Linked DNA regions of Homo sapiens. The protein of the gene in region 3 purifies or fractionates together with the protein of the main gene of each other region. This does not show direct contact. Each region holds a gene or a part of one and is shown on either strand. Other genes may lie near its edges.

Region 1 (3,168 bases), on a different chromosome or scaffold from region 3:
AAGAAATTAGATGAGTTTATTCATAATGTAAACCATATTGCCCAGAGATTGGCATATATGGAAAGTGATCTTATATGTTAGCTATTGTAGGTACAACACAGAGAAAAATCTCATTGAGAACTTTGACATGTTATACACAAGCACAACATGCAGACACACACAGAATGGCGCACACACACGTATGTATTCTCACCACATATTTGTAATTGGTCTCAAATTTTATTCATTTAAAAATTAGCCCAAGAGCACATTTATTTTTTCCTAAACTATAGCAGAATAGTAACATAATGTGATGTGGAGAGATTCCTGGATTTAGATTTTGGATTTTTTTTGGTTTAATTTTCTTCACAAAAGATTAGATAAAGAATTGTCTATATCTATGTGCCTCTGTTTAAAAATTTGTCAGTAGACCTTTCCATATGAATAGAAATAAATTGACAAAATTATACTACAAAGCAAACATTTCTCCTAAAACGAGACACATTTAAATGTATTCAAACATATTTGGGAAACGAAAGGGGAAGTAAATATAGATGTATGAGAAGTATTCAAAGATGGGTCAGAAAAGGATCTTCCCTTGTCTTAAAAAGTGGAAAGGGGAAATATTAAGCTTTACTTATGTTTTCATTTTTTTCCAATATGAAATGTTGAAAGAGTTTTCTCATATTGCTAAATATACATGAAAACCAAAGATACATGATTTGGGTTATATAAGAAAATAAAACTTTCAGATGAACATCAATGTTGATTCATATCACCTGTTGCTGAAATTATTTTCTTGCAAATATTATTAGATTGTTTTATGGAAATGAAATATTTAGGTTTTAGACAGAAGGCATCTATAATACAATTGACCTTTGCAGAATATATTTTGTAGTTCATGCCTGTAACAGAAGTAATTAAAATAGACTTACTGCTGGTTGTTTCTGGTTTTGAACCTCCACAGCCTGGGGAGTTCCAGAAGAAGAAATAATGAGAAATAAGTTAAAAAAGAAAAAAAAAGTACTTAAATCAGTTAAAAAAATCTTTTGTGTTAAAGACAAAATATGTTTTCTTTTTATTTTTTAAAACATTTTTCATGAGTGATCTATGAGGCCTATGGACTACTTAAGAAGCAACAGTAGTCTAACTGATTAGTAATAATAAACTGCATGTTTATATTGTCTTTAAACATCACCACCTAGAATGAAAAAGTCACTGTGGGAAAAATCTAGTCATCTGACTCCCATGCCAACAAATATGCTTAAATGAAAAATATGAATAATTTCTATTTAGTTTTTATTAAATATACATTGTTAGATTGTTAAAAATTAGAGGAGCATTGAGCCTTTTTTCCTTTCTCTGCTCTCATACTAAGATGATTCATAAGGTTTACTTAGAAGATTTAAAATATTGCCTCTTGCATAAACTTAACATATAAATAATAGTGTTTTTAATACCATCTTTCATTTGTTTTTATAGTGCTTTTCTTAGTTTTGGATTGTGACATATTTAGAGAATCAGGAGTGAGAAAACAATTTTTATGGACACATATTTATAAAACTAAAAACTCCAAAGCTTTTAGAAACTTTTGAAAGGAGGTATAATATTAAATATTTTTAAATTGACAGTTCTGTTTTAGGACATTACACATGTATTCCTTGGGTATAAAATGACTCTAGAAACCTTTTGGAAGGTGTGAGTATAGAAAATCAGAAAATTGAGAAGGTAATAAAGTTTCCTTGCTTTGAGACAAAGACTTGCTTTTCTTTAAATATATTAAATCATTAGTTTAAAATGTAAAGAAGTAATATGAGGCCGGGCACATGTCTCACCCTGTAATCCCAGCACTTTGGGAGGCAGAGGTGGGTGGATCATCTGAGGTCAGGGGTTCAAGACCAGCCTGGCCAACATGGTGAAACCCTGCCTCTACTAAAAATACAAAAATTAGCTGGGCATGGTGGCGGGCACTTGTAGTCCCAGCTACTTGGGAGGCTGAGGCAGGAAAATCGCTTAAACCTGGGAAGCAGAGGTTGCAGTAAGCCAAGATTGTGCCACTGCACTCCAACCTGGGCGACCAAGCGAGACTCTGTCTCAAAAAAAAAAAAAAAAAAGAAGTAATATGAATATTGTAGAAAGTATACTTTAAAAAATTCTGACAATCTAGATACCTTAATGCGATATCAACCTATGTTATGTATTCCTGGTATATGCTTGTCTAAAAAGTATCCTGCATTTTTATAGGAAATGTGGTGTCTCTTTTTTTTATTTATATCATAGGTTTCATAGTTACATTTTTATAGTTGATAACTAAGTGATCAATGATTATGTCATGAAATGTTTATTTCTTATCGTTATCTATTAAGATAAAATTTTAATTATAAACAGAGTGATGATTAACATCTGTATACCAGTGGCCTTTTTAATAATTTTCGTTAATACCTTAAAATGATTTTTCACAAATGAGATTTGATTCTTTGATAGAAATTATGAAATTGTGGTATAGAAAAGTTGTGTCAAATTATAATGTCACCAATAGGCTATGTGTTTATGCAGTTTAGTGCATAAGTGCTAGTAAAATATTATCTAACTATTTTTATTTTGGGGGAAGGGATAAAATAGTACATATAACATGGTATCACATTGATGTTTTAATTTGTATAAATTTGACTACTCATAAGATTGAATGGTAAAATCAATAAATTTTTTTTTTTCTGTATATTTGTTCATGTCCCTGAGGCCTGAAGCCTTTGTGAAAATGGGAAGGAATGTTTGAAAGACGAATCCGGCTCAGGTAGCTCAGGAAGAGGTTGCTATGCAGCAGGGATTTGTAGATCATTTCATGATTTAAACTTTAAGCCCTATTACTCAAAGAGACAACCTAAGTTCCAAATGTTCAGGTGACCACAAAGTATTGAGTTGTAGAACTCAAAGTTTTAAAAGGTAATTTTGACTCCAAGAATTGACCTAATAGAATTAATGGACATGTTATACACAAGCACAACATGCAGGTAATAGAATTAATTAATAGATGTTAACTTAAAAGCAACTCTAAACTTAATAATAAATAAATATTACAGAGATTCACAGAACGAGGACTAGTGTTCCTCAAAATTTTACAATCTAGGAGGAGGACATATACCATTATTTATGCTTGCCTCCTTTGTCAGTGCCTAGAATACCCAGATG
Region 2 (3,324 bases), on a different chromosome or scaffold from region 3:
ACTAAAGTTAGTTGATTTTCTGTTACTCTCTTGTCAGTATCATTTCCATCACTGCACATATTAAAATTAGTAATTTTTTTACTTTGTCTCCTCCATTAGACTTTAATCCTATAAAAACATATACTACATCGCTTCATTGTTGTAATCTATTATACCTAGCACCATAATTGTACATATAGTACTCAAAACTAATACATACGACAGGTATTCATATTTTCAAAAACCAAAAACATTAACCCAACATACAGAAAATACTGTTAAAAAACATCCATGGAAATATTGATGAACAGAGGGAGAGGAGAGGCAAGAGCCCAAATGCAAACTGGGAAATTGTATTCTGAACCATCAGTTAGGTTTTAATTTATAACCTGCCTGGAGACTGTCTACAGTGTTGACTGAGTTCAAAACATAAAGCACAAATAAGAAAAGTATACCCCAAACCACACTTCTTTAATTAAGCTCTAAGAAAAACTCAAATAAATGAAATAGTAAAACTTTGATCAGTAATTCCTTATTGTTTATTCTCCTCTTACAAAAAGACACTTGGGACAAATAAATACAAAATGGCATATATCATATTTAGCAATGGGCAAATACACATTTTCTTGGTATTCTCCACAAGAATAAACTAATAAAATTTTCAGAGGCATACTCTTCTACCCATCTCTTACCCTCTAAAAAAAAAAAAGGCAATTATTTTAATTCCCTGTAATTTTTAACAATGAATTCTCAAAATAAGTAATCTAGGACTATTCAGGGACCAAGACATCTGAATCAACAAGTTAAAAAAAAAATGTCTGTATACACACACACACACACACACACACACACACACACACGATGTTGCCCAGAAGCTCCAATTAATGAAGAGTCTTAAAAGTTTTTCATTTCATATAGTTTGCATGAATAGAGCCTGTTCTATTCTAATCTCAATGGCAAATAATATAAAACAGAAAGCTGAACACAACATGTGTGTGTGTGTGTGTGTGTGTGTCTACTTTTCTGTCCTAAGAGAAAACATTAAATACAGGTATATTTAATATACAGTGAACATACCATGTGTTTTCTTAAAGCCAACAAAATCCTGATTTCCTATAGCTTGGAGGTGATACAGAAGGCAGAAGACAAATATCAAATTTAGCTAATAAAATATACCCTGCCTATTGGCTCCAGCAATACACTATAGAGTTTGAGCAATGACGGATACCCAAGTGTATATGTTTTGTTAAAATTTATCTTCAGGCTAATACCTGAAGAGGTTGGCTAATACTTTAAATCAAATATTCTTACTTAATGATTTATCCATCAAATGGAAATATGTACAACATATTTCAAATCAGAAAAGGGGTGAATTTTCCCCCTGCCCTTCAAAAAAATATTTTTAAAAATCCACTTGAAATAATTTCTTATTTGATGCTTTTTAATCACTTTCCACTTTATGACAACCATTTTTCTAGAAAGGCAGACAAGAATATAAAATGACTAAGGGGTCACTATGAAAACAATCAAATGGATTTGAAATTTACTTCTGTGTATTTTCTGTACTCCCTAAGTCTTGTGCTAATTAATTACATTTTACTTCATCCCCTGTAATGTTACAAATATGCACCTTAAAATAGAAAAACTTGCTTTTATATTTTAAAACCCCCTCCTCCTTACCTATCTTCCCAAATATTTTAAGCAGAAAATTAATCTTGTTGCTTTAAGGATTGATGTAATATTTGCGAAAAACAACCCCTAATAAACCCTTTAGACTTTTTCGAACCAGCACCAAATTTAAGGGGTTTATTCACTCTGAGGTTGCATGGAAGATGGAAATTAAAAATATCAGTATAAGTAGAACCACATTTAAGAAAAAGCACCTAAAGATGGAGGACAGATAATTCTAACATCCTACACACACACAGTGGTAAACCATATTCATGTTTCTATGTATGTAATAAGTTCTCCAAAAATCTAGGTATTTTTGGTTCTGGTACTAAGTCTAAATTTTTTTTTTTTAAATTTCAAAGGCAATTTAAAACTGGGGGGAAATACATTTTTAAAATTTTGGGGTTGAAGTTCACTACACTATGAGACTAATTTCGTATGTGGCAAGTTGCAACTCTCCAAAGGTGTGAATAAACATCAGAAAGCCCAAAGTGAAGAGCCAGTACATCAACATGCATGATCAGGAATCCTATGAAAGTCACAAGGCATTGGGATTTGGTGATTTACATTAACCTCCTCCTGGTAGAAGATAGTGTTTCATGATGAATGCAGACTGTGCTCACTGCTCATGAGACACACACATCACTACTGCTGAGGTCCCACTTTGTGATAATTTAGAAATCATCCAAATTTAACTCCAGAAAATATAAATCTGGAATATGAATGTGAAGACAGACAGTACAAACAGCAGTTGAGTGAAACCTGCCTGTAACGATCTTTATTTTTTTTTCCTTTAAGGCTACAGAAAATCTGTACATAAACAAGGCAATTAATTCTCATAATAAAAATAACCCCTTACAAATAGCCAAGGTGTCCAGTCAGATTCCATAGTGAGTATATGTTGTATCACATTTTATTCCACTTGTGTACTTTTTTGTGAGTCTGCTGGGTTAGGATCAATTCTTTCTGGAAATATTAGCTTCTCACAAACTGCTTCCTTTATTGGTAAATACTGGGATATTTCATTAGGTTCCGTGAAGAGGGAAGGTGGAACATGCTAGGAAATACATAAATCATATTAGCATATTCAGTTACTGTACTGAAATTTTTTACAAATGTTTTGGTTCAAGCATTCATAAAGCATGGAAATTTTAAAATCAGGTGCAATATATGCATATGTGCTCCTAAAAATAATAGGTATTTCTTGATACGGAATCATTCAACTTTGTTACTGAATGATTTCATCAAAGATCACAGGGTTATATAATCTATAATGTTCCCACAAATGTCCTAAGAATTTAATACATCTTAATCCAACCCTATGTATCTCCTGCTTTTGTAACTTGAAAACACTAGTCTTCGGTTAGAGCACAGCATGTAGTCTACAATAGAATCTAAGTAGTAACTTTTCTGTTCCAAGTATACTCTATACCCAGACAGAAGTACATACTAAGCGTGAAAAAATAAAATCAAGTTTATAGGAAGGTACCAATTTTTAAGCAACCCATTATAGAATCCTAAGTTCTAAGGAAGGCTTCACAGGTCCCGGGGAGTAAAAAATAAAGAAAAATGATGCCAAAACAAACAAATTATGGTACAGAATCACCACATTTTCGGAAGAGAAAAGGAGACTATGTAGAAAGAAATAAGGCGGCAGGGTGGTAAGTGTAAAGA
Region 3 (3,500 bases):
CTGACAGGCAACTTCAGCAAAGTCTCAGGATACAAAATCAATGTACAAAAATCACAAGCATTCTTATACACCAACAACAGACAAACAGAGAGCCAAATCATGAGTGAACTCCCATTCACAATTGCTTCAAAGAGAATAAAATACCTAGGAATCCAACTTACAAGGGATGTGAAGGACCTCTTCAAGGAGAACTACAAACCACTGCTCAAGGAAATAAAAGAGGACACAAACAAATGGAAGAACATTCCATGCTCATGGGTAGGAAGAATCAATATCGTGAAAATGGCCATACTGCCCAAGGTAATTTACAGATTCAATGCCATCCCCATCAAGCTACCAATGACTTTCTTCACAGAATTGGAAAAAACTACTTTAAAGTTCATATGGAACCAAAAAAGAGCCCGCATCACCAAGTCAATCCTAAGCCAAAAGAACAAAGCTGGAGGCATCACACTACCTGACTTCAAACTATACTACAAGGCTACAGTAACCAAAACAGCATGGTACTGGTACCAAAACAGAGATATAGATCAATGGAACAGACCAGAGCCCTCAGAAATAACGCCACATATCTACAGCTATCTGATCTTTGACAAACCTGACAAAAACAAGCAATGGGGAAAGGATTCCCTATTTAATAAATGGTGGTGGGAAAACTGGCTAGCCATACGTAGAAAGCTGAAACTGGATCCCTTCCTTACACCTTATACAAAAATCAATTCAAGATGGATTAAAGACTTAAACGTTAGACCTAAAACCATAAAAACCCTAGAAGAAAACCTAGGCATTACCATTCAGGACATAGGCATGGGCAAGGACTTCATGTCTAAAACACCAAAAGCAATGGCAACAAAAGACAAAATTGACAAATGGGATCTAATTAAACTAAAGAGCTTCTGCACAGCAAAAGAAACTACCATCAGAATGAACAGGCAACCTACAAAATGGGAGAAAATTTTTGCAACCTACTCATCTGACAAAGGGCTAATATCCAGAATCTACAATGAACTCAAACAAATTTACAAGAAAAAAACAAACAACCCCATCAAAAAGTGGGCAAAGGACATGAACAGACACTTCTCAAAAGAAGACATTTATGCAGCCAAAAAACACATGAAAAAATGCTCATCATCACTGGCCATCAGAGAAATGCAAATCAAAACCACAATGAGATACCATCTCACACCAGTTAGAATGGCAATCATTAAAAAGTCAGGAAACAACAGGTGCTGGAGAGGATGTGGAGAAATAGGAACACTTTTACACTGTTGGTGGGACTGTAAACTAGTTCAACCATTGTGGAAGTCAGTGTGGCAATTCCTCAGGGATCTAGAACTGGAAATACCATTTGACCCAGCCATCCCATTACTGGGTATATACCCAAAGGACTATAAATCATGCTGCTATAAAGACACATGCACACGTATGTTTATTGCGGCACTATTCACAATAGCAAAGACTTGGAACCAACCCAAATGTCCAACAATGATAGACTGGATTAAGAAAATGTGGCACATATACACCATGGAATACTATGCAGCCATAAAAAATGATGAGTTCATGTCCTTTGTAGGGACATGGATGAAATTGGAAATCATCATTCTCAGTAAACTATCGCAAGAACAAAAAGCAAACACCGCATATTCTCACTCATAGGTGGGAATTGAACAATGAGATTACATGGACACAGGAAGGGGAATATCACACTCTGGGGACTGTTGTGGGGTGGGGGGAGGGGGGAGGGATAGCATTGGGAGATATACCTAATGCTAGATGACGAGTTAGTGGGTGCAGTGCACCAGCATGGCACATGTATACATATGTAACTAACCTGCACAATGTGCACATGTACCCTAAAACTTAAAGTATAATAAAAAAAAATTAAAAAAAAATAAAATAAAAATGTAAATATGAAAAAAAAAAGACATTTCCTGCAGAAACTCAGCCAGAAAGAATTATGGCGAAGTATAATTACAAATTAATAAAGTCAATGATTCATGCTATAGTTACTCAGCTTTGGAGAGAAAGCATACATTCTTGTTTAAGCAGGGAAATGTGTCTAAATGACTGATAAATAGCTTAAGACAGTATATATGGATTTTCTATCTAGTGTAAATAAGCTTCTTAAAAACAAGTTCCAAGATTGTTTATCCTTTCCAGCCTGGTTTGAAGGACACATGTTGAGTGTATTTCATCCCAAAGCTCCTGTGATTGAGGCGGCTTTGAAATTGTTAGAAGTAGAATTCCTGGGCATCATTTTGGGAGCAGGGCTGGACAGCAGTAAACCTGGAGCATGTCCAGGTTCCAAACCTGACTACCATTTCTAAGCTGTGTGATCTTAGGCAAACAGGTAATTCTCTAAGCCCCGTGTGGCTTCATATGTAAAACAGAAATAATAATTTTGTTACACAACTGCTTTAAGGGTTAAATGAGATAATAGTGACTGGCACACTGTAAGCATTAACTAAATGTTAATCATTATTACTACAGGGTCTCCTCCCAACATCCCTCTTACAGGAACAAAGAAATCCTTTACTTTCAACAGCAATACCAAAGAGAATGGTAGCTCATTTTTTCTAAACCTTACTATGATGCAGAAGGTATTTATTTCCATCATCTTTTTAATCTAAGAACCCAGCAGAGAAAAGCCTCTGAGTGCTGCCCTTGATAATTCATGAGAGGAGGGTGGGAGGAACTTACTGCCAGCCTCCATGAAAGCCTCAGGAAGGTATGTGAAGCCACTTTCTTGTTCCAGAGGGTTCCCACAGCTAGCATGCTCACCAGGGCGCTGGAGGTTGATTATTGTTTTTATGCCATGGCTTAAAGGAAAAAGGGCAGTCAGTCATATTGGGAGCTAGCATTTAAAAAAAATTAACCATTTTTGGTATTAATCAACATTATTAATTACTCTCAAAAATCTTAATTTCTCATTTGAAATACACTCTTCACTGCCTATTGTTAAAATGAAAGCACTCTTTCACTTGAAACAAAGGCAATGAAAGAAAAAAACACATGAGTTTGCTCACTCGTGTGTGAACAATACAGCATTTACCTGAGGAACTGATCAATGATGTGGTACTTCTCCAGGAGCTCAGAGGATGGGCGGGCCATGGCCAGTATATTATCAGTGACCCTGCAAATAGGTGGAGGGACTGGTGAGATGTGCTGAAACCTAGGAAGTTCCAGTCCAAAGAGATGTTCCAGTCCTGAGAGATGATTTTTTCTATGATTTCAACAACTCTGTTAGAATATTCTTTTTTGTGTATAAATTTTATTTGAACAGATAATACAGTTTCATGGTTCAATAAAATCAAAACAATACAAAAAGGTATGCACTAAAATGTTTGCTCTCAACCGTTTTCATCCACTCCATTCAGTTTGTTCCCCATATGTAATCATTTGTATTAACTTCATGTTTACCATCTTAGTGTTTATTTTTGCAAATATAAGCAAATATGAATATTTATTCTTATTTATCTGCTTTTTCTTGTACAAAAGGT
Region 4 (3,500 bases), about 31 Mb from region 3:
CTTCTGCCTGGGCATCCAGGCGTTTCTATACATCTTTTGAAATCTAGGTGGAGGTTCCCAAACCCCATTCTTGACTTCTGTGCACCCACAGGCTCAACACCTCATGGAATCTGCCGAGGCTTGGGGCTTGCACTCTCTGAAGCCACAGCCTGAGCTCTGTGTTGGCCCCTTTCAGCCATGGCTAGAGCGGCCGGAGGGCAGGGCACCAAGTCCCTAGGCTGCACACAGCATGGGGACCCTGGGCCTGGCCCATGAAACCATTTTTCCTCCTAGGCCTCTGGGCCTGTGATGAGAGGGTCTGCCATGGAGACCTCTGACATGCCCTGGAGACATTTTCCCCATTGTCTTGGGAATTAATATTCAGCTCCTCATTACTTATGCAAATTTCTATAGCCAGCGTGAATTTCTTCTCAGAAAATGGGATTTTGTTTTCTATCGCATTGTCAGGCTGCAAAGTTTCTGAACGTTTATGCTCTGTTTCCCTTATAAAACTGTATGCTGGCCAGCATGGTAGCTCATGCCTGTAATCCTAGCACTTTGGGAGGCCAAGGCAGGTGGATCACCCGAGGTCAGGAGTTCAAGACCAGCCTGGCTGACATGGTGAAACTCTGTCTCTCCTAAAAATACAAAAAATTAGCTAGGTATGGTGGTGGGTTCCTGTAATCCTAGCTACTTGGGAGGCTGAGACAGGAGAATCGCTTGAACCTGGAAGCGGAGGTTACAGTGAGCTGAGATCACGCCACTGCACTCCAGGCTGGGCAACAAGAGTGAAACTCTGTCTCAAGAAAAAAAAAAAAATGAATACCTTTAATAGCACCCAAGTCACCTCTTGAATGCTTTGCTGCTTAGAAATTTCTTCTGCCAGATACTCTAAATCATCTTTCTCAAGTTCAAAGTTCCACAAATCTCTAGGGCAAGGGCAAAATGCCACCAGTGTCTTTGCTAAAACATAACAAGAGTCACCTTTGCACCAGTTCCCAACAAGTTCCTCATCTCCACCTCAGCCTGGACCTTATCGTTCATATCACTGTCAGCATTTTCGTCAAAGCCATTCAACAAATCTCTAGGAAGTTCCATACTTTCCCACATTTTCCTGTCTTCTTCTGAGCCCTCCAAACTGTTCCATCCTCTGCCTGTTACCCAGTTCCAAAGCTGCTTTCACATTTTCGGGTGTCTTTTTAGCAGTACCCCACTCTCGGTACCAATTTACTGTATTTGTCTGTTATTATGCTGCTGATAAAGACATACCTGAGACTGGGCAATTTAACAAAAGAAAGAGGTTTAATTGGACTTAACAGTTCCATGTGGCTGGGGAGGCCTCAAAATTATGGCGGAAAGTGAAAGGCACATTTCACATGGCAGCAGACAAGAGAAGAGAGCTTGTGCAGGGAAATTCCGTTTTTTAAAACAATCAGATCTCTTGAGACTTAGTATCACGAGAACAGCACAGGAAAGACATGCCTCCATGATTCAATTCCCTCCCACAACACATGGAAATTCAAGATGAGATGTGGGTGGGGAATACAGCCAAATCATATCAATTTCTAAGCAACATATTTGGATATTTACTCTGGAAATGTAGTTACAAATGAGCAGTTCCAAATAGAAGAGTGCAATTTACTTCAGCTTTGCACAAAAGCAGGTAAAGAGGTATGCCTATATTTTGAGGCTAGAACAACTAGAATATCATATTTCTTTTCTTAGTGGTGATAGGAAAGCCTACTTTCCTGGACCAGAGAAGCAGATGTAAGTAGCCTTAGGAATTGCTGTGCTTTTTCTGCTGCCAGTCCCCTGCTCATGATTATGGAGAAAAATGTAACTGAGATGCTTAGGTAGTGAGGAGGCTTCAAGGCTTAGGGAATGGGCACTCTAGTAAATGTGACATTTAGACTATAAGCAAGTAATTGGTGGGGGATGTTTGTGACCTAGTGACATATAACCTGTATTTGTTGTTATTGTTGGTCATCTGTAGCTGTCAATTTCCTATTAAGTATGAGGTCCTATAGCTCCAGTATAAAATACACCAAGTATGCAGAGGGGCTTAGTAACATTTAGTGAATTAGGTAACTAAGTCTTCAGCCCCATAGATCCTCCCAAACAAAATGCAAAATGGGTGTCTGTTCTGCAGCTGGCACCATGATCAGTCTCTACCATGTCTGCAGCCTGACATGCTACTTTGTATATGTGCTACTGAAGAGAGCACAGACATGCTACTTTGTAAAACCAGTCTGTGCAGTAATTTTTCTAAAGAAAAGTTAGGACCCTTATTCTTCAAAGAGAGTATGCACTGAATATATCTGATGTCATGCAAAGTATTTTTCCTTTTAGAAAAAGAGCCCCATATATTGCTTATCTCACTCGTTGTCGACAAGGACTACAGACCACACAGGCTCACCTGGAAAGGCTATTGCAAAGAGTTTTGCGGGACAAAGAAGTGGCCAATCGATACTTTACCACTGTCTGTGTGAGATTACTGCTTGAGAGCAAAGAAAAGAAGATCAGGGAATTCATTCAAGGTAACTCAATACCTTTAGTTTAAGCATCTCTTCACCTGTAATACTGTTGGGAAGATTTAGAAATACTGTTTTGTTTTGCTAGTTTGTTCAAGTATCTGCATGCCTTAAATACCCAATTATTTTATGGAATCTTAATAAATTAAACTTTGATGTCAAACCAATAAATTGCATTTTTCTCCTGGATTGAATATCTGTAGCTTACTTTTTAAATTGGGGACATTGGTAAATTTTTGGATCTATACAAATTTTCTCATTTTTTTTAAAAAGCCAAACATATTTTTTTTAGAAACTTTTGAGACGGAGTCTTGCTCTGTCGCCAGGCTGGAGTACAGTGGCGTGATCTCGGCTCACTGCAACCTCTGTCTCCCTGGTAGCTGCCTCAGCCTCCCAAGTAGCTGGGATTATAGGCACGTGCCACCACGCCCAGCTAATTTTCATATCTTTAGTAGAGATGGGGTTTCACCATGTTGGCCAGAATGGTCTCAATCTCCTGACCTCGTGATCCGCCCACCTCGGCTTCCCAAAGTGCTGGGATTACAGGCGTGAGCCACTGTGCCTGGCCTAGAAACATATTTTTATAACAAATTCCTTGCACTTAAACTTTCACATATTTCTTGCTTTTTCTCCTGATTTAATTATATGGCTACATATTGTCCTAAAATAAACTACACTGAAACACTTTTGGCTTTAAGATCATGGTGTCTGCATAGCTAGTGATTAAAATTATTTCTATGATTTCCTTTTTAAAATTATTTAGATAGTTTTTATTAAACTATTTAAAAATTATTATTTTGCTTTGGAGACTTTCAGAAACTCACCGCAGCTGACGATAAAACTGCTCAGGTAGAAGATTTTCTGCAGTTTCTTTATGGTGCAATGGCCCAGGATGTCATATGGCAAAACGCGAGTGAAGAACAGCTTCAAGATGCACAGCTGGCCATTGAGCGAAGCGTGATGAACCGGATTTTCAAGCTCGCCTTCTAC
Region 5 (3,500 bases), about 42 Mb from region 3:
ACTGGCCAGCTGCAGACTCAGCGGAGCCACCAGTGCCTGTCCCGGGCCCCTGGGAAGCCCCACAGCCAGGCCCACCTTCAAGCCTCAGTCCCAACACGGCCCTGGCAGAGACGGGTGTCACTCAGCCCTGTCCCAACACAGCCCTGGCAGAGACGGGTGTCGCTCAGCCCTGCGGGGCCCGAAAGGATTTGGGAGTTTGGGAGAGTGGGCCCTACCTCAGCCCAGCCGCTCCCTGAGCACTCTCAGGAGCCTGTATCCAGGGCACGACAGACCTGGCAGATCAGAAATCAGTTGGCGAACGGAAAAAATGGGATGGAATCCGGGAAGTGGGGAATGTCCTCAACCAGGCAGGAAGCCCTGTGGGAAGGGCCCGATGCTGTGGCTGAGAGCCAGGGTCTGCGGGCGCTTCCCTGAGGAGGCGGCGGGACGGACAGGGGCACAGCCACTGTGGAAAGGGCAGCAGAACGTTCTAGGCAGAGGGGACGACGGCGGAACGAGGCTGACACTGAGGACCCTGTCTCTGCTGTCCCTACGCCTGGCACATCTCCAGGGAGACTCTCGCAGCTGGGAGGACCCTCATCCTCCTCCCTGCTCACCCACAGCTCCCACCCCCCTATGCCCACCCTTACCCAGTCTTCCTGGGAACCAAGCGTCCCTCCACCCGTGGACACACTGGACACGGGCTGTGCCCAGGAGCCCTGCGCACACCCAGTGTGAGTCCGAGGGCGGGGCCAGAACCAGCCCTGGCATCAGTGGGCACTCTGAGAATCCAGTCCTGGCACCTCCAGACCATCAGACTTGGCCCCATTACTACGCCTCGGAGCTCAGCGCCCTCCTCATCAGACTGCGCCGGCATGGATGGGCCGGGCCGGGCAGTTCCCCTCCGCACTCATCCCCCCGAGAGGCTCAGCTCCTAAAGTGAAGCTGCTTGGTGGCTGCCTGCATCAGGCAGATGTCGGGGGGCAGGCCCAGACACCCCCTTACCCTGTCCAGGCCCCACTGCATCAGGGAGCACAGCCACCAGGGTTGGGGCACTCGTCAAAGTTAGCAGCATGAATGGCCAGGCAGGGTGCCGGGGCCTCAGGTGCACCCGGACCCCACCGTTAGCCCTGGGTTCTGGGCCCTGCCGGGGAACACAACATCCACAGAGGGAGAGAGCCGGCTCAGGCGGGCAGTCACTCGGTCATTTCAGGCACTGGGCCCCACACACAGCCCCTCCCAGCCTCACCTGCACAGCTGTCACTCAGCCAACATCCCCCTGACCCCAGCCTCAGCAGGGCCCTGATTTAAATATGAGCCTGGCCCCGACCATGAGGGAGGGAGGAAATGGGCCCGAGTGTCAGGGTCTCTCAGGGTCTCCCTTACAGGCCCATGCTGCGGATGAGAACAGGCCTGGGTCTTGCTGGGGGGCTGCTGTCTGAGCATTGTGCCACCAAATGGAGTCCAAGCCTCCACCCCCAACTGGGAAGGGGGTCCTGCTGCCACCTAGTGAATGGCAGTGATGAGGATGCACTGGGGGCTTCAGACGGCTAAGAAGGCACCTGGTGGACAGCAAGGTGCTACCTATGGGGCAGAGGGGAGCCCCTGGATCGGCCTGGCTGCTAGCAGCCCCTTCCTGAGTCTGTCCATGTGACCCGTTTAAATGGTGAGCTCCTAAACGCAGCTGGGGGGAAGGGGACAGGAGCAGAGGGAGCTGAGGACTTGGGGGCCCAGGCTGGTCTTCCGCCTCCAGCCCGCTGGCCCCAGACCAGCCCACGGCGAATGCCTACAGCTTCATGAGAGCTGGGCAGGGACCGGGAACTGGCTGAGTGTGGGCTGTGCGCTTCCCTGGCCTGGCCTCTGGGCTCCGAGGACACACCCTAAGCTCCTGCTCTCCAGGGGCCTGGGATGGAAACCTGTGCGGCCAGAGGCACACGTGGGGCCCATCAGGGGCCTGAGCAGGACACTGGGACCTGGGGCCGTCCACTGCTCCTCCCACTCCCAACACAAACGCCCGGGGCAGGGCTCCCATCGCCACCCTGTGGCCACAGTGGTCAGCGGGATCAGGGTTAGCTCCGGCACATTCAGGATCCGGCCAGGCACTGAGGTGGAGCCGCCCCAGCCTCGGGTGGTGCAGCTTGAAGGGACAGAACGGGGCTGGGGTCGACGGCCTGTTCTCTGAAGGGCCACCAGCTGCCCACCCCCACCCAGATGAGCAAGGTAGCTCTGAGGACAGCTGCTGACCCCACACAGTTCGGGGCCTGCTCCCCACACCATGGAAATGACAGAGGAGCACGTCTGTGCTGGGGCGGGCCCTTCACTTACCACACCCAGCGAGAGCCCCGCTCCGTCTCCCGGTGTGCACTGCCTGAGGGCCTGGCTCTCCCTCTGCCGCCCCCAGTGCCATGGGGGCCTAAGTTGGTTTCCCCACCGCATCCTCCGGGTCCTGGGCCCGGCACAGCTGCTTCTGCCAGGCCTGGCCCTCCACCAGGACACCGCATGGATGGGCCCTGGCTGCAGCAGCGGCTGAAATGCTCTTCTGAGACACAGCCTGCGTCTGGCCCCAGGGCGGGCGCCCTCATGGCCAGGCACGGACGGTGGGCGGAAGGCCCGCTGCGCCTGGCTCAATGCACCCTCTGTCTGCAGAGTCGGCTGAGGCGTTGAGTGTGAGTCCAGCGCCCTTGGCTGAGCTGCCCAGACAGGCCCGGCCCACTGGCTTGGCTTCCTGTCTCTCCCGCCTGCGAGGGCAACGTTTGGAAACTTCTCCCAGCACCGCCCCATGGCCACCCGACGCTGACCGTCACACTGTCATCATCATTTCTGTCCTCACCCAGCTCCAGACGTTTATGTGCAATGGCCAACTCAAGCCCATCGAGCATCTTGGTGCCCCCTGTGCCTGCCGGACCCCTCAGGGCAGCACCCGCCCCGCCGGCTTGGCTCAGACCTCAGCAACCCCGATTTTCAGCTGCCCACGGTTCCTTCACGCCCACCTCTGGTCTGAAATCCAGTCTGTCCCCGCCTCACTGCAGATCCAGAGTCCCACCCCTCCTCACCTCCCTGGAGCCGGATCACCTGCCCCTCACCTGCCTGCTGCCCCAGCCTTGCCCCTAAGTCCCCTCTCCATGCAAGGACCATGGGGTTGGTAAGGGCTGGCCTAGGCCTTGCCCCTTCTCTGCTGGGTCCTGAGGGCCCCGCCCCATTGGGGAGGGGGTCTCACACAAGGGCCCACGAGGCCCTCCCTTCTTCGGCCAAGGCCCTCGCCTTGCTCCGTCAGCTCCAGACAGTCTCCCTGTCCCTTCACCTACCAGGCTGGCCCCTGCCTCAGGCCCTTTGCACAGGCTGTTATCTCTGCCCAGACTGCTGTTCCTCCGTCTAAGCTTGCGGCTCACTTCTCTCTGACTTCCAGTCTTTGCTGGAGCATCATGATCAAAGCCCTAACTCCCCATGGGATGGTGTTAGGAGGTCCTGAGGTTTACATGAGGTCATGAGAATGGAGCCCCATAATGACAAGTGGCCTTAAG
Region 6 (3,351 bases), on a different chromosome or scaffold from region 3:
AATATTACTGTTGCTAGCTTTCTCCTTTTTATCTCTTACCTTACTTGGGGCATTTCCCATCTTGGGTCCTGGTTAAGCTCAATCTCCCCTGTTGGAGATGTCTCGCCTATCCTTTAGCCCCACCTGCTGGAGGCTCCTTGCATTCATGCACACTTTCAACCCCCAGAATATCCTGACCACCAAGGAAATACTTTGTCACCCCTGCGATGTTTCTTAGCTTGGTCTCTGCACACTTACTTGGTCGCTGTGGTACATGAGGATCCTTTCCCCCAGGTCGCCAGCCCGTTTCTTTCTGCCTTGCTGAGAGTATAGGTTTATTCGTCACACTGGTTGGTCTCGATTCCTTACCCCTGTGGCCACCGCAACAAGGCAGTGGGACGTGCCTCCTCATGGGAGAGGTCTAGACCCTCCTCAGAGGAGGATGGGAATCCCAAATGAGACCCCAAATTTGTTAGAAATAAATTTTCAGTGCCACAAAAGAAATAGCACTCAAACATACATTTTCTCAGCAAGGCAATTTTACTTCTATACAAGAGTGCGTCTCATGGATGGTGCAATGGCGAGAGCACACCGGAACAAGGGAGGGGAATGGGTTCTTATCCCTGATGCAGGTACCCCCTACTGCTGTGTTGTTCCCCTATGGGCTAGGGTTGGACCGCACAATCTAAGCTAATTCTGACTGGCTATTTTAAAGAGAGCAGGGGTATAAGCCAGAGTGGTGGGGTGAGAAGTTTAGACAGGAAAGATGGTTACGGACCAGGTGACTAAAGGTGACTCAGGTCAGAGCAGGTGACAGAGGCTAGGAGGGGATTGTTTACTGAAACTAGGGGCAAGGAGACATAAAGAATGAGGAAATTAAAAGTTAAAATGAAGAACAAAGAACAGGTGAGCTGAACATACTGATACATTGGTTCTTTGGAGAGGATCTCAGAACTCAATGTACTTAACAAATTACAGGCTAAAACCTTTGAAGAAGAATTTATGATATCCTACATTATCATGGGGTAAACAATTCGTCCCTGACAGAATAAGGCTACTGGAGTTCTCTTCTTGTAACTCTGGGAAGGACTAGAGGGAACTGTGTCTGCAGTGGGGCCAGGTAGTTAAAAAGTCTGGACTGGGCCGAGCGTGGTGGCTCATGCCTGTAATCCCAACACTTTAGGAGGCCAAGACAGGTGGATCACCTGAGGTCAGGAGTTCGAGACCAGCCTGGCCAATGTGGTGAAACCCTGTCTCTACTAAAAATACAAAAATTAGCTGGGCGTGGTGGCAGGCGCTTGTAATCCCAGCTACTTGGGAGGTTGAGGGAAGAGAATTGTTTAGACCCGGGAGGCAGAAGTTGCAGTGAGCCGACATCGTGCCATTGCACTCCAGCCTGGGTGACAAGAGCGAAATCCATTGCAAAAAAAAAAAAAAAGAAAAAGAAAAAGTCTGGACCAAGCCAAGAGGGGAAGAGGACGTCCCCATGAAAGAGCTTTGGATCCAGAAAGCCCGGGTTCTTGGAATTCTTTTTCTCTTTTCACTTTTGTTGTAGCATACTTTGTTCTTTTTTATTTTTTATTTTTTTGAGATGGGGTGTGGGGGCTTTACTGTGGGTCTTGCTTTGTCACCTAGGCTGGAGTACAGTGGCTCGGTCTCTGCTCACTGCAACCTCCACCTCCCAGGTTCAAGCAATTCTCCTGCCTCAGCTTCCCAAGTAGCTGGGATGACAGGCATGCTCCACCATGCCCAGCTAATTTTTTTTACCGTTAGTAGAGACAAGGTTTTGCTATGTTGGCCAGGCTGGTCTCGAATTCCTGAGCTCAGGTGATCGGCCCACTTTGGCCTCCCAAAGTGCTGGGATTACAGGTGTAAGCAACTGTACCCAGCGCATGTTTTATTTTAATTTAATTTAATTAACTTATTTTTTGAGATGGAGTTTCCCTCTTGTTACCTAGGCTGGAGTGCAATGGCGCAATCTCGGCTCACTGCAACCTCTGCCTCCCGGGTTTAAGTGATTCTCCTGCCTCAGCCTCTCCAGTAGCTGGGATTATAGACATGTGCTACCACGCCTGGCTAGTTTTGTATTTTTAGTAGAGATAGGGTTTCTCCATGTTGGTCAGGCTGGTCTCAAACTCCTGACCTCAGGTGATCCACCTGCCTGGGCCTCCCAGAGTGCTGGGATTGTCCTTGGAATTCTGAGTGGATACATGAAGAGTTAGTAAGAACCAGTGAAAAAGCAATCACTTATGATCCTGGGCTTTGAAAAATCACTGTGATTATCTTATGCACTTACAAATGAGACTAAGACGCCTGATGGGAAAGTGCAGATTGCTGGTGAGGAAGGGCAATGAAGAAGAGACTAGGAACCAAATTCATCATCATTATCACACAAAGGCATTTGGAAATGTCACCTTACACATGGTGAGCACATATGGGTGCCAGCCCGAGACAGCAGGATAAGTTTCACAAAACTTGACCAGGCAGGTTAGAAGCAAGGCATGGTTCAGGATGGCAGAGGGCAGGGAGACAGAAGGGAGTAGGATGGGAGAGAAGAGCCAGCTGGAAGATGAGTCAGGGGGTGCAACTGGGGAGAGCAGCTCTGAATCCTGCTTCTCAGTGAGAAAGTTGCTAAGATGGCTTTGCAGGGAGCTGTCCTATCGCTGCTCGAGATCAGCCTGCTGGGCCTATGATGATAAGCAGGGCTGACCCTCTTGGGCTCTGTAGCTAAGCCCAAACCCTGCTGAAAATGGGGCGGGGAGGTTGAGGCAGTGTGTGGCAAGTGACACAGACGGGGACTCCCAGCTGGGGGTCCCTGGAATTACTTGACATCCCACAGCTGGTGTCTTCAGCAGTCATCTGGGGCAACAATCCCACCTGCCCATTGTGGTTGTTGAGGATATCAGAGCTTTTGTTTTAAAGCGCTTGCCACAAACTCTTAAGATGCGGATGGGTTTCCCCTGTGAAGCACTCCACAGGCGGGATGCAGGCCCATCTGAGGAGGGGCTTGGAAGGAAGAGGAGCACTTGAGACGGGGCAGAACTGGGCTGGCCTGGGGCTCAGCGACAGCTCCATTGCAGACAAACTGGGCTGGGGAAGGCAGCTCCCACCTGGCAGAGGATGCCCTTCTGCCCCCTGACAGGAGGGAGGAGACCACCGCATCCCCGACTTTCAGCCCTCACGTGCCATCTGGTGGCTTTGCTGCAGACACTGCCATGATCTGAGTGGTCTTTGGCAATCACGCATTGGCGGGAGTGTGAGGTTGCGGGGAAAGAGGGACTGACCATGGGCCTAGGTGGGGAGGCCTGGCCACTGTGCCCACAGCTTAGGAAGGGACAGTCAGAGCTCCTCTTTGTTGCTATCGACGGACTG
Region 7 (3,500 bases), on a different chromosome or scaffold from region 3:
CGGGCCACTGCACTCCAACCTGGGCGAAAGAGTGAAACTCCTCCCCCACCCCCCAAAAAAAGAATATTAGCCCTCTTGGGTCAAACTCAAATTTGGTTAACAGGCACTGAGAACTACTGTGTGCTAGGAACTGGGATAGGAGCTCTCTAGTGGGTTGTTTTTAAGGGCTACAAAGAAACTGAAGGGTTGAGGGGAAGGCTTTACTTACATCCAAATCATCCATGGCAGGTGGAGGTCTCTTGGTGCTGACCTTCTTCAAAAGCTAGTGGGAAGAAAAAATAATCACAAGGGAGAAGGGAGTGAAGGAAGAACAATCTGCACATTGATGGTCCATAGAAGAATGGTTGCAGCCAGAACTGGTCAGGCAACTGCTCCCATCTTTAAAACATCACTGGAATTAATTTGAGAAAAGTAAATTGATCCCCTTCTTAAAAGAAAATTTAACACAAATCCAGATTGGAGTCGGCTAGTGTTTTTATAACTGAAACCAAATAATATAACGACAGTGTGTGATTTACTGGGGGCCAATTATTTATGATGTGAGTTTTTATACTGCTAGTTTTAACATCCCATGAAGTTGTCTGGCTTAACACGCGCACACACACACACACACACACACACACACACACACACACACAGAGGCCGGGTTTGGTGGCTCACATTTGTAATGTGAGCACTTTGGGAGGCTGAGACAGACAGATCACTTGAGGCCAGGAGTTCCAGACCAGCCTGGCCAACATGATGAAACCCCATCTCTACCAAAAATACAAAAAAAAATTAGCCAGGGGTGGTGGCGCATGCCTGTAATCCCAGCTACTCAGGTGGCTGAGGCACAAGAATCACTTGAACCTGGGAAGTGGAGGTTGCAGGGAGCTACTGCACTCCAGCCTGGGAGACAGAGCAAGACTCTGTCTCAAAAAGAAAACCACACACACAGGCCAGGCATGGTGACTTACGCCTGTAATCCCACCACTTGGGAGGGTGAGGCAGGTGGATCACCTGAGGTCAGGAATTTGAGACCAGCCTGGCCAACATGGTGAAACTCCGTCTCTACTAAAAAAATACAAAAATTATCCAGAAGTGGTGGTGGGCACCTGTAATCCCAGCTACTCAGGAGGATGAGACAAAATTGCTTGAACCCAGAGGCAGAGGTTGCAGTGAGCTGAGATCGCGCCATTGCACTCCAGCCTAGGCGACAGAAAACCACACACACACACACACACACAGAAAACAGTAGAACAAGAATTACAGAAAAGTGGAAAAACGTTTTGTCAAACTTCTTCAGAATACAGGCTCTACACTGAATAAGTGAATCAATGTATATAATTTCAATAATATTCTTTCCTCTCATCCCTATTAAATAAACATTGCACAAAATACGTAAAGAATATCAGCATCAATGAGTAACCTGCCTAGAGAGCTTGCATATCTCTGCTTGGCCCCAGTGACAATCCTCCAGAGACATGTGTGCAGAGAAACACAAAGAATGATCAAGTGGGCAGAACACAGTAGGTGTTGTCTCTCACCTCTGCATAATGTTCCACATGAGCCAGCTCCATCTCTTCATCCCCTTCCCAGTCTCTCCAGTTATCAAAGTCCACAGACAGCCACACTGGCTGCAAGAAGAGGCACCAAGAGTCACAGGCCAGGAGGGCAGGAGCAGGAGTGTGTGGGAGAGTGTGGGCATATGCATGGGAGCACGCCTGGGGAAAAGAGGGTCAGTAGGTCCCTAGTCCTCCCAACTGCACTCCTTTGACCAGGAACCTGCCAATCTACACACAAAGCTAGGCATGATAGAGTCTGAAAATCTCAGAAGTCCTACCCTCCGGCCAGGCGTGGTGGCTCATGCCTGTAATCTCAGCACTTTGGAAGGCCGAGGCAGGAGGATCACAAGGTCAGGAGTTCGAGACCAGCCTGGCCAATATGGTGAAACCTCGTCTCTAGTAAAAATACAAAAATTATCCGGGCGTGGTGACGGGCACCTGTAGTCCCAGCTACTCGGGAGGCTGAGGCAGGAGAATTGCTTGAGCCTGGGAGGCGGAGGTCGCAGTGAGCCAAGATCGTGCCACTGCACCCCAGCCTGGGTGACAGAGCAAGACTGCATCTCAAAAAAAAAAAAAAAAAAAAAAAGAAGTCCCACCCTCCAGGAGCCGATTGACTGAGGAGACAACACATCTGGAAAGATAATTGTATCATAAAGCAACATAGGCATTATGCCCTCTCTCTCTCCCTCTCCCTCTCCCCCTCCCCCTCCCCCTCCCCATGGTCTCCCTCTCTTTCCACGGTCTCCCTCTCATGCGGAGCCGAAGCTGGACTGTACTGCTGCCATCTCGGCTCACTGCAACCTCCCTGCCTGATTCTCCTGCCTCAGCCTGCCGAGTGCCTGCGATTGCAGGCACGCACCGCCACGCCTGACTGGTTTTGGTGGAGACGGGGTTTCGCTGTGTTGGCTGGGCCGGTCTCCAGCCCCTAACCGCGAGTGATCCGCCAGCCTCGGCCTCCCGAGGTGCCGGGATTGCAGACGGAGTCTCGTTCACTCAGTGCTCAATGGTGCCCAGGCTGGAGTGCAGTGGCATGATCTCGGCTCGCTACAACCTACACCTCCCAGCCGCCTGCCTTGGCCTCCCAAAGTGCTGAGATTGCAGCCTCTGCCCGGCCGCCACCCCGTCTGGGAAGTGAGGAGTGTCTCTGCCTGGCCGCCCATCGTCTGGGATGTGAGGAGCCCCTCTGCCTGGCTGCCCAGTCTGGAAAGTGAGGAGCGTCTCCGCCCGGCCGCCATCCCATCTAGGAAGTGAGGAGCGCCTCTTCCCGGCCGCCATCACATCTAGGAAGTGATGAGCGTCTCTGCCCGGCCACCCATCGTCTGAGATGTGGGGAGCACCTCTGCCCCGCTGCCCCATCTGGGATGTGAGGAGCGCCTCTGCCCGGCCGCGACCCCGTCTGGGAGGTGAGGAGCGTCTCTGCCCGGCCGCCCCGTCTGAGAAGTGAGGAGACCCTCTGCCTGGCAACCACCCCGTCTGAGAAGTGAGGAGCCTCTCCGCCCGGCAGCCACCCCATCTGGGAAGTGAGGAGCGTCTCTGCCCAGCAGCCACCCCATCCGGGAGGGAGGTGGGGGGGGGTCAGCCCCCCGCCCGGCCAGCCGCCCCGTCCGGGAGGGAGGTGGGGGGGTCAGCCCCCCGCCCGGCCAGCCGCCCCGTCCGGGAGGTGAGGGGCGCCTCTGCCCGGCGGCCCCTACTGGGAAGTGAAGAGCCCCTCCGCCCGGCCAGCCGCCCCGTCCGGGAGGGAAGTGGGGGGGGTCAGCCCCCTGCCCGGCCAGCCGCCCCGTCCGGGAGGTGAGGGGCGCCTCTGCCCGGCCGCCCCTACTGGGAAGTGAGGAGCCCCTCTGCCTGGCCACCACCCCGTCTGGGAGGTGTGCCCAACAGCTCACTGAGAACGGGCCAGGATGACAATGGCGGCTTTGTGGAATAGAAAGGCGGAAAAGGTGGGGAAAAGATTGAGAA

What was found.
Region 1: the proteins of PTPDC1 (region 3) and CSN3 purify together in Homo sapiens (affinity purification with mass spectrometry, with the first as the bait; one large-scale study listed by BioGRID). This does not show direct contact.
Region 2: the proteins of PTPDC1 (region 3) and TIPRL purify together in Homo sapiens (affinity purification with mass spectrometry, with the first as the bait; 2 studies listed by BioGRID). This does not show direct contact.
Region 4: the proteins of PTPDC1 (region 3) and GAPVD1 purify together in Homo sapiens (affinity purification with mass spectrometry, with the first as the bait; one large-scale study listed by BioGRID). This does not show direct contact.
Region 5: the proteins of PTPDC1 (region 3) and GPSM1 purify together in Homo sapiens (affinity purification with mass spectrometry, with the first as the bait; one large-scale study listed by BioGRID). This does not show direct contact.
Region 6: the proteins of PTPDC1 (region 3) and FOXRED2 purify together in Homo sapiens (co-immunoprecipitation; one large-scale study listed by IntAct). This does not show direct contact.
Region 7: the proteins of PTPDC1 (region 3) and PTGES3L purify together in Homo sapiens (affinity purification with mass spectrometry, with the first as the bait; one large-scale study listed by BioGRID). This does not show direct contact.

The regions. Positions count from the first base shown.
Region 1 is NC_000004.12:70,245,597-70,248,764, reverse strand, and holds part of CSN3 (kappa-casein precursor), read right to left. Parts: intron 948-3,168; coding exon 915-947; intron 1-914. UniProt on the Homo sapiens protein: Kappa-casein stabilizes micelle formation, preventing casein precipitation in milk.
Region 2 is NC_000001.11:168,199,286-168,202,609, reverse strand, and holds the end of TIPRL (TIP41-like protein), read right to left. Parts: intron 2,708-3,324; coding exon 2,564-2,707; 3' UTR 501-2,563; downstream 1-500. UniProt on the Homo sapiens protein: May be a allosteric regulator of serine/threonine-protein phosphatase 2A (PP2A). Isoform 1 inhibits catalytic activity of the PP2A(D) core complex in vitro. The PP2A(C):TIPRL complex does not show phosphatase activity.
Region 3 is NC_000009.12:94,087,464-94,090,963, reverse strand, and holds part of PTPDC1 (protein tyrosine phosphatase domain-containing protein 1), read right to left. Parts: intron 3,134-3,500; coding exon 3,053-3,133; intron 2,820-3,052; coding exon 2,701-2,819; intron 1-2,700. UniProt on the Homo sapiens protein: May play roles in cilia formation and/or maintenance.
Region 4 is NC_000009.12:125,352,326-125,355,825, forward strand, and holds part of GAPVD1 (GTPase-activating protein and VPS9 domain-containing protein 1), read left to right. Parts: intron 1-2,328; coding exon 2,329-2,516; intron 2,517-3,318; coding exon 3,319-3,500. UniProt on the Homo sapiens protein: Acts both as a GTPase-activating protein (GAP) and a guanine nucleotide exchange factor (GEF), and participates in various processes such as endocytosis, insulin receptor internalization or LC2A4/GLUT4 trafficking.
Region 5 is NC_000009.12:136,344,539-136,348,038, reverse strand, and holds part of GPSM1 (G-protein-signaling modulator 1), read right to left. Parts: intron 1-3,500. UniProt on the Homo sapiens protein: Guanine nucleotide dissociation inhibitor (GDI) which functions as a receptor-independent activator of heterotrimeric G-protein signaling.
Region 6 is NC_000022.11:36,486,690-36,490,040, forward strand, and holds the end of FOXRED2 (FAD-dependent oxidoreductase domain-containing protein 2 isoform 1 precursor), read right to left. Parts: coding exon 3,319-3,351; 3' UTR 501-3,318; downstream 1-500.
Region 7 is NC_000017.11:42,970,081-42,973,580, forward strand, and holds part of PTGES3L (putative protein PTGES3L), read right to left. Parts: intron 1,617-3,500; coding exon 1,527-1,616; intron 263-1,526; coding exon 209-262; intron 1-208. Other genes in the region: PTGES3L-AARSD1 protein, read right to left, coding at 209-262, 1,527-1,616.